Homo sapiens: one gene and its partner. The protein of the gene in region 2 purifies or fractionates together with the protein of the main gene of each other region. This does not show direct contact. Each region holds a gene or a part of one and is shown on either strand. Other genes may lie near its edges.

The links.
Region 1: the proteins of RPS6KB2 (region 2) and PRSS3 purify together in Homo sapiens (affinity purification with mass spectrometry, with the first as the bait; one large-scale study listed by BioGRID). This does not show direct contact.

The regions. Positions count from the first base shown.
Region 1 is NC_000009.12:33,793,870-33,798,686, reverse strand, and holds the start of PRSS3 (trypsin-3 isoform 2 preproprotein), read right to left. Parts: upstream 3,127-4,817; 5' UTR 3,114-3,126; coding exon 3,074-3,113; intron 2,045-3,073; coding exon 1,885-2,044; intron 859-1,884; coding exon 605-858; intron 320-604; exon of another isoform or gene 202-319; coding exon 65-201; intron 1-64. UniProt on the Homo sapiens protein: Digestive protease that cleaves proteins preferentially after an Arg residue and has proteolytic activity toward Kunitz-type trypsin inhibitors.
Region 2 is NC_000011.10:67,426,727-67,431,486, forward strand, and holds the start of RPS6KB2 (ribosomal protein S6 kinase beta-2), read left to right. Parts: upstream 1-1,767; 5' UTR 1,768-1,819; coding exon 1,820-1,897; intron 1,898-2,255; coding exon 2,256-2,296; intron 2,297-2,393; coding exon 2,394-2,514; intron 2,515-2,800; coding exon 2,801-2,869; intron 2,870-4,641; coding exon 4,642-4,760. UniProt on the Homo sapiens protein: Phosphorylates specifically ribosomal protein S6. Seems to act downstream of mTOR signaling in response to growth factors and nutrients to promote cell proliferation, cell growth and cell cycle progression in an alternative pathway regulated by MEAK7.

The sequences.
Region 1 (4,817 bases), on a different chromosome or scaffold from region 2:
ATCTTTTTCCCCGGTGGGGCCTGGGTATCGGTGGGAGCCTCAGCATGGGAAAGGGTCAAATCACCTGGCAGGAATCCTTGCCTCCCTCAAGGAAGCCCACACAGAACATGCTGTTGGTAATCTTTCCAGGGTAGGAGGCTTTACACTCAGCCTGGGTCAGCACCGGAGCATCCAGGCACTTCAGCTCGTCTGGGTAGTCAGCTGTGAGGATCAGGAAGAGATCAAAGAAAGTAGAAATGTGGGTGAGGCCAGAGAAGGAGACAATAATCTGGGATGGAACATTGAAGAGGAACACTGCCTCTGGAGAGGACTCCAAAACGTAAGTTCTGGCAAGGGACTCTGGCTTTTAGTTTCCAGAATGATCATTGTTGAACCCCTCCCAAGACGTGATCACAGCAAGTTCTCCATTTGTCCTATCTCTTGATTTTAGGAGCCAAGTCCTTGAGACTTTGCATCTCTCTGGTGCCCAGTGCAGAGACTGTGTGTAATGGGCACTAGAAATGTGTCTTAAGCCGGGAGGCAAGAGGATTCAAATAAAGGGGCATGCTTCGTTCTGGAAATTGTGAGGATGGGGGGAAGTAGAAGGACAAAGGGTCCCACTCACCACCAAAGCTCAGAGTGTTGCCCCAGCCGGAGATGAGGCACTCAGTGCCAGCAGCTGGAGGGGTGGTGGGCAGAGAGATGGTGGACACGCGGGCATTGATGACGGCAGGTGAGGAGAGTTTGATCAGCATGATGTCATTGTCCAGAGTGTCCCTGTTGTATTTAGGGTGGCGGATGATCTTGGCCGCATTGATGAACTGCTCATTCCCCTCCAGGACTTTGATGTTGTGCTCTCCCAGTCTCACCTGGATGCGGCTGATGGGCAGGGCAGGCATGGTGAAGACCTTCTCCCACAGCCTGGGCACCCCTCCCACCTTCCCCAGGGTCCTCAAGCTCACTGCTCATGGATAGCTCTGGAGGCATGGGGTGGGGTGTGTGGCCATATTGCATGGGCAGGAGAGGGATGTGGGTCAGTGCAGGTGTGAGACCCAGGACCTTTCTGCTTCAGAGGCTGGTGGTAGTGGGGTGGGGAAGAGTCAAAGGGATCCCACCAGAGGCTGCTCCTCAACCTGCCTTCCCAGCCTCTTTCCCACAAATCTCCACAGTCACTAGCACTGTGGGCACAAAGAGCTCCTCGTAGTTTTCCCAGCATTCTTCACCCCAGGTCTTTGCTAACTGCGCACAGCGCCTGTTCCTCCCTCCCTTCTTGGCCTAGTGAGCACCACCCTTCTGTGTAATCTAATCCAAGGGTAGCCATAGCATTAGCATCTCCTGGGAACTTGTTAGAAATGTAAATTCTTGGTCCTTACCCCCACCCGCTGATCAGAACCTTGGGGATGGGACCCAGTGATTTGTGCTTTAATAAGCCTGCAGGTGGTTTTGACGCATACTCAGGTTTGAGAGTTCTTCGTGTAGGCAGCGGTTCTCAGCTCTGTCTATACACTCTACAGTTACCAGAGGTAGAGTGTTAAATACTCACTGGTATTCACACTGTCTTCCTGAGAAGTTTGAGTTAATTGCCCTGGGGTAGGACACAGGCATCAGTATTTTCAAAAACTCTGTCTTAGGTCGCTTTAATGTGTAGCTAACCAGCAAAAGGTACTTGCCTGCTTTTGTCACTAGCTCTGACAACTCCAAGATTATCCCTGCCTGCTTTTATGACCACAACCCTTGCTGTTTCATGGATTGGCCTTGCTCTGGAGAGTCAGCTGCTGTCAACAAGTTTTCTTTTCCACCACCTCTCCCATCCGTCTTACCCAACCTCAGTACTTCCCTGGGCTGAAGCCAAGCTCTCCCAGGCAGCCTGGCTGGGAGCTTTGCAGTCAGGGGCCCCACACTTACGTCTTGTAGCAGTGAGCTGCTGATACCACCCACTGTTCGCTGATGAGGGAGCCACCGCAGAAGTGGGAGCCAGAATTCAGGGACACCTGGTAGGGGAGAGAATTCTCCTCACAGGTGTAGCCCCCAACAATCTTGTCATCATCGTCAAAGGGGACAGCAACTGGAGTGGAAATAGGAAGGGAGAAGGCAAGTCAGTAGCATGTTAGGGGTGGTGCTCCCAGCCTGCGGTTGCTTCCTGCCAATTAGAAATCCTTAACAAGCCCAGTGAGGCCAGGCAAGGGAGGGAGCGCTGCCACCCCTGGTGAGCATCACTGGATGTGGCTCCCAAGTCTCTGTGTCTGCAGGGCACGTAGCTAGGTACCCTGCAGGGGCTCAGATCTCTCCTGGGGACACCAGGCTGAGGATGCAAGGAATGTCCTCAAAATGCTTCCAGTGGGGTAGCAGTTGGTATGTTGTTGTCTCACCCACTGAGTGCTTCTCTCTTTTATTCATCACCTGTGTACTTGCCCTGGCTATTTGAGCCCTGGATTGTCAGGATACTTTGGCTAAGCTAGGAAAACCCCCTGTCTGGGTAGACCTGGCCATGACTAGCTTCCCCCATAGCTCAGATCTGTGCAGTGAGGGCAGAGTTGAGGGCAGCCCCAGGCTCACTTTGGCATAACAAAGGTAGACTTTGTTATTGGCCAATAGAAGAGCAATTCTTAACTTTGGCGGCATGCCTGGAAACGTTAAAAATCACCTGGGAAGCTTAAAAGCCCAGTACACAGGCTGCACCCCAGACAAATGAAGTTAGAACTTCTAGAGTTGAATCTCTGGCATGAGTAATTTTTGAACCTCCCCAGGTGCATTCGAGGTTAAGAGCAGCTATAGTGGTGCTATACTGGTGCTCTTGGAGCCAAGCCTGAAGCCTGCCACTTCATTTCATGGGCCAGCCCCACCTGGTCTCCCTTCCCAGCTTCTCCAACCACAGCTCGGATATGGATGAATGACAGTGGTGGGAGTGAAATGAGGGAAAAGGTGAAACAGGTGAGGCTTAAAGAGAGCCCAAGGAGGATGGGAAGGAGATATGTCAGATGGAGGAAATAGAATATCAGAGCGCAGTCAAAAGAGGAGAGGTGGCAAGAATGGCAGGGCATGTGTCTGCCAGGAAAGGGGGTGGGTGGGGCCTGAGGCAGGTCATGAAACTCGCCAGCAGCTCCCACAAAGGCAAGGATCAGGAATGGATTCATGGTGGTAGAGTGTGCCTGACTGGTGGTGGAAGGCCTGTCCTTATACCCTTCCAAGAATCAGGAGAGGAGGTGTCTGTGAGGTGAGGGTCACAGTTCTTCCCAGCACAAACACACCTGCAGCTTTCCCCTTGCCAGGGTCTTGCATCAGCTCGGCTACGTTTGGCCACTCTGTGGGTTTGTGATTCACAGGTGATAAGGAAACTTGCCTTCTGAGAGCAGAGAGGGAGACTGGCTATTTCCTGGAAGGATGCTGGGATGGGGAAGACAGGGGAAACCAATCCCCGGATCACACAGCTGGGCTTTCGTAGGCCGAGGAGATGAGGGTTAGAAGGAGGGAGAATGGCCTGGGTGTCTAGGAGTCCTTTTAACTATTGGGGATGTATTTAATAATGTACTTAAGGAAGGGCAAGCATTGGTAACAAGCTTGGCTTTTCAGTTTCCTGGAGCCCCCACGAGAGGAGGAAAGTCTTATCTAAGGCTCATTTTTGTGAATATGAATATGCTTCTTTGCAGTCACTGTGCACAAAGGTCAAATCCAAGACTTTGGGTATCCAGAATTCCAACACTAAGGGGTAAGGAGAAGGGAGACTTAGCATTCCATAGGATTCTGGGCTTCCAGATGGCTCTCCTTCCTACCAAGGCTTAAAAGGATGGGAAGTGTTTCAAAGAAGGAGGGGACACAGGTTAGGTAGGAGCTTACTCAGTGCATCTGGAGGATGGAAAACCAATGGCGCACTCCTCCCCTTCTTCAATGTGAAGCCACTTGTCTCTCTCATGTGCATCCTGTCATAGGTTCTTTTTATGCAGCCTCACGGTTGTCCTGGCAACCTGCACTTAGGGTGATGCAAACTGACTCACCTGCTCAGGGCTGACAGCCTGAACCAGAATGACATGCCCCTGATCAGATGTCAGAGTTTGGACCATGGTAAATCTGGGTTACCATCTGATCTGAGAATCAGCAGTAGGTAGAGATTTTAGCACATGGTAAATGGGTCACATATTGGGATCAATAAGAAGATGTGGAGGGGTGGGTCTAGAATTTTCTATTTTAGATGCAGTGAGATTATGCTGGGCTTAGTATCAAGTGAATCTTCCCAGAGAATATCCTGATTTGGGCCCTACCAAGGCTACTAAGACACAGTTGTGTAATTGACTGAGGCACAACCTGGCCAGAGTAGTGTGGAGATGGAGATGCTGTCTGTGATCAAGTCTAATGATGTAAGGAAAGGAGGAGCTTCCTTATGAGGGTGCTTTCCCTTCTCAGCAACTCTGAGCTCAGGTTGGTGATGGGCAGGAGTGAGCAGAGTTCAAGTTTAAATTCTTTGAAAAGTAAAAGAAGCAGAGATGTTCTGGAGATGGTGAACAAAATGAGAAAAGCTCAGAAACTTCGTGTTGAGATCGGACATGGCCAGGGGGCTAGAGGGAGGAAGCAAATGGAAACCAGAGGGAATTGGAAAAAATGCGAATGTGGGGCCCGTGGAGTTGAGAGGACACACAGAGTACCTTCAGGTTCAGCTCCTGGCATGGCCAACGAGCCAGCTTCCCCAAAGCCAGGAGATCCACTGCTCAGAGACCCGCTCTCCACCCCACATCCCCTCTAATCACTGATGGGCTCATACCTAACACTGCTGTACTTAGATGGTGCATGGTGCCTGACAGCTTTACAAGAGTTTTCACATAAGCAACAGTGGTACATTGCTTTTC
Region 2 (4,760 bases):
AGCGTTTTTGGTTTTTGCTGGGTGTAGTGGCTCATGCCTGTAATCACAGCACTTTGGAAGGCCAAGGCAGGAGGATCACTTGAGTCCAGAAGTTCAAGACCAGCCTCCTGGGCAACAAAACAAGACCTCCCCTCTAAAAAAAAAAAAAAAGAAAGAAAGAAAGAAAAGAAAAAAGATTATGTGATTATGTCATTCCAGTTACTTGGGATTTGAGGTGGGAGAATCACTGGAACCCAAGAAGTCAAGGCTGCAATGAGCCACGATCTTGCCACTGTACTCCAGCCTGGGTGACAGAGTAAGATCCTGTCTGAAAAACTAAACAAAACAAAGAAAAAAAAACCATAAAGTTTTTTTTTTTTTTTTTTTTTTTTTTTTTTTTTTTTTTAAGATGGAGTCTCGCTCTTGTTGCCCAGGCTGGAGTACAATGGCATGATCTTGGCTCACCGCAACCTCCGCTTCCCAGGTTCAAGTGATTCGCCTGCCTCAGCCTTCCCGAGTAGCTGGGATTACAAGCATGCACCACCATGCCCAGCTAATTTTGTGTTTTTAGTAGAGACGGGGTTTCTCCATGTTGGTCAGGCTGGTCCTGAACTCCCGACCTCAGGTGATCCGCCTGGCTCGGCCTCCCAAAGTGCTGGGATTACAGGTGTGAGCCACCGTGACCAGCCAGGTTTTCGGGTTTTATCTGTTTGAGACTTGGTCTCACTCTGCCGCCCAGCCTGGAGCGCAGTGGTGCAATCTTGGCTCACTGCAACCTCTATCGCCCGAGTTCAAGCGATTCTCCTGCCTCAACCTCCCGAGTATCTGGGAGTACAGGTGCGCGCCACCACACCCGTCTAATTTTTTGTATTTATAGTAGAGGCAGAGTTTCATCATGTTGGCCAGGCTGGTCTCCAACTTCTGACCTCAAGTGATCCACCCACCTCGGCCTCCGAAAGTGTTGAGATTACAGGTGTGAGCCACCGCCTCCGGCCTGTTTGTTTTTTTGAGACAGGATCTCACTGTGTCACCCAGCCTGGAGTGCAGTGGCACCATCATAGCTCACTGTAACCTTGAACTCCTGGCCTCAAGTGATCCTCCCAACTTGGCTTCCCAAAGTGCTACGATTACAGGCGTGAGGCATCGTGTCCGGCCTCAACAACGTTTTTTGAAGTGTCTATTCTGTACCAGGTGCCTAAATGTGCTTAAATTAAGAAGGGAGTAAACGCCAACAAAATCCCATATTTACAGGTCTATCACTGACCCCCAAAACCCTATTTAAGGCGGGAACCTGGCAACATAGCCTGGCAGTGAGCTGGCCACTCAGTAAATGCTCCGATTTGCAGGGTCCTCGAGCCAGAGGCACTTTGAGGAGACCCTGATGCAGCCGCCTCCCTTTCTGGAGTGAACCGAAAGCAACGCGACCTGCCTTTCATCACGCAGCCGGCCTGGCAGTACCCGTCTCCAACAGGGCTGGGGATTGCATTTACATTCACACCTGCATACACTTCCGACCCTGCTCCATCCAAACTCAAAACACCGTAGAACCAAAACGGGCTCCCAGAAAGCCTTGCTGGGAAGACCGAGGGTCCTGCGGAAAGGATTCTGCAGGCTGAAGGCTAGGCGCCTCGCCACTCTAGGACTACAATTCCCGAGAGGCCTTGCGACGGAAGCCATCTTTGTTCCCCACCAGGCTAAGCGATTTTCCGGAGGGGGAGTAAGATCCCTTGCGTCACCGGCGCGCGCAGCTGCCGTCGCGGAGAGATGATGTTTAGGTCCGGGACTGTCAGTCAGTGCGCGGCCAGGTACGGGCCGACGGGCCCGCGGGGCCGGCGCCGCCATGGCGGCCGTGTTTGATTTGGATTTGGAGACGGAGGAAGGCAGCGAGGGCGAGGGCGAGCCAGAGCTCAGCCCCGCGGTGAGTGCCCTGCCCTGGCGCGACTGGATCCTGGAGCCGATCCTGTCACCCAGCCGAGGCCGGAGCGGCGGCTCCGCACGCCCAGAGCGGGCTCCGACTCTTTGCAGACCCAGATCCTTCTCAGATCCCGGTCTCTATTAAGTTCTGATCCCACCCTCACCCCGACCTCTCTTCCAGAACCCCAGCCTTTTCTCCCGATTCTCCCTTTCCTGCCTTCGGTTTCTTCCCAATTCTTACCCATCCCCTACTAGCTGCCATCCCTGACACCCTTCTCTCCTGGGCCACGCAGTCCAACCTGAACGGGAGCGGGGAGGTATCCTGGCACCTTCCTTGGCTCTTACCCCTCGGTTTCTCACAGGACGCATGTCCCCTTGCCGAGTTGAGGGCAGCTGGCCTAGAGTGAGTGAGGGTCGTGTTGGGGGAGGGGGGAATGGAGTGGGGAAGGGGAACTGGGGAGCACTGGAGCCTTGTCCTCATTAACTCCTTGTGTCCGTAGGCCTGTGGGACACTATGAAGAGGTGGAGCTGACTGAGACCAGCGTGAACGTTGGCCCAGAGCGCATCGGGCCCCACTGCTTTGAGCTGCTGCGTGTGCTGGGCAAGGGGGGCTATGGCAAGGTAGGGGCGGGCGCACCCTCCTCCTGGCCTCACAGCCTCCATCTGGAGGCAGCAAAGGGTTCTCAAAACAAATTAGACTTGTGAATCAGCAGGGCCTCTAATGGGATTCAGAGCCAGAAACATAAAGGAGGGAAGGCCAAATCCTCTCCAATCGGACTTGAAATCTTCACTGCCCCACCCTTGGCAGGGCCTAGGCCTCCTGATCCCAAAGCCAGAGCTTCAGGGTGGGGCTTCTTGAAGATAGGATGTGGAGAGGGAAGTTGATCCTGTCTCCCCTGCCCTACAGGTGTTCCAGGTGCGAAAGGTGCAAGGCACCAACTTGGGCAAAATATATGCCATGAAAGTCCTAAGGAAGGTGAGTCACTCGTTCAGCCAACGAATACTGTGTGGCTGCCATTCCCAACATGCTGTACCAGGCTTTGGGAAGACAGCAGGGAACACAGTGGAGGAGGATCCCTGACTTTGGCGTTTGCTGGTTTATTGTCTGTTGTGATGTGTATTGTCTTGCAGTAATTCTCAATGGGGGCAATTTTGACTCCCAGCAGACATTTGACAACAGTGTCTGGACACTATTTTATTTTATTTTTTTTTAAGACGGAGTCTTGCTCTGTCACCCAGGCTGGAGTGCAGTGACGCGATTTTGGCTCACTGCCACCTCTGTCTCCCAGGTTCAAGCGATTCTCGTGCCTTAGACTCCGGAGTAGCTGGGATTACAGGCGCTTGCCACCACACCCAGCTAATTTTTGTACTTTTTTGTAGAGGTGGGGTTTCGCCTGGCTGGTCTCTAACTCCTAATCTCAGGTGATCTGCCCGCCTTGGCCTCCAACGTGCTGGGAGCTGGGATTACAGGCATGAGCCACCGTCCCTAGCTTTTTTTTTTTTTTGGATGGAGTCTTGCTTTGTTCCCCAGACTGGAGTGCAGTAGTGCACTCTCTGCTCACTGCAACCTCTGCCTCCCGGGTTCAGGTAATTCTCTTACCTCAGCCTCCTGAGTAGTTGGGACTACAGGCTTGTGCCACCACACCTGGCTAATCTTTGTATTTCTATTTGTTTACCTACTTATTTTGAGACGGAGTCTCACTCTGTCACTCAGGCTGGAGTGCAGTGGTGCGATCTCGGCTCACTGGCAACCTCCACCTCCCAGGGTGAAGTGATTCTCCTGCCTCAGCCTCCTGAGTAGCTGGGATTACAGGCGTGAACCACCACTCCTGGCTAATTTTTTTTTTTTGTATTTTTAGTAGAGATGGGTTTTTGTCATGTTGGTCAGGCTGGTCTTGAACTCCTGACCTCAGGCTATCCGCTCACCTTGGCCTCCCAAAGTGCTGGGATTACAGCCATGAACCACCGTGCCTGGCCTAGTTTTTGTACTTTTTAGTGGAGGCAGGGTTTCACCATGTTGGTCAGGCTGGTCTCGAACTCCTGACCTCAGGTGATTCGCCTGCCTCAACCTCCCAAAGTGCTGGGATTACAGGTGTGATCCACTGCGCCTGGCATGGACACATTTTTGATTGTCAAGGCAAGAGGGGAGTGTTACTGGCACCCGGTGGGTGGAGACCAGGGATGCTGCTGAACATCCCACGATGCGCAGGGCAGCCTCCCACAACAAAGAATGACCTGGTCCCAGGTGTCAGTAGTGCCGAGGTTGAGAAACCCTGTGTTAGAGGATAAACCCATCCCTGAAAATGATGGTGGCTGACAGCAGCAGAATTATGGAGAAATACAATGCAGTGACAGAGGATGCAGCAGTTAACAAACAGATGGATGGTCTGAGGAGCTCTGGTTGCCCCCATTTTTTTTTTTTTTTTTTTTTTGAGATAGTGTCTCGCTCTGTCACCCAGGCTGGAGTGCAGTGGCGTGATCTCAGCTCACTGCAACCTCTGCCCCTGGGTTCAAGCGATTCTCCTGCCTCAGCCTCCTGAGCTGGGATTACAGGCGTGTACCATCATACCCAGCTAATTTTTCTATTTTTAGTAGAGATGGGGTTTCACCATGTTGGCCAGGCTGGTCTCAAATTCCTGACCTCAGGTAATCCGCCTGCCTTGGCCTCCTAGAGTGCTGGGATTACAGGTGTGAGCCACTGTGCCCAGCCTGGATGCCTCAGTTTCTAACCAATTCCTGTATCTCCAGGCCAAAATTGTGCGCAATGCCAAGGACACAGCACACACACGGGCTGAGCGGAACATTCTAGAGTCAGTGAAGCACCCCTTTATTGTGGAACTGGCCTATGCCTTCCAGACTGGTGGCAA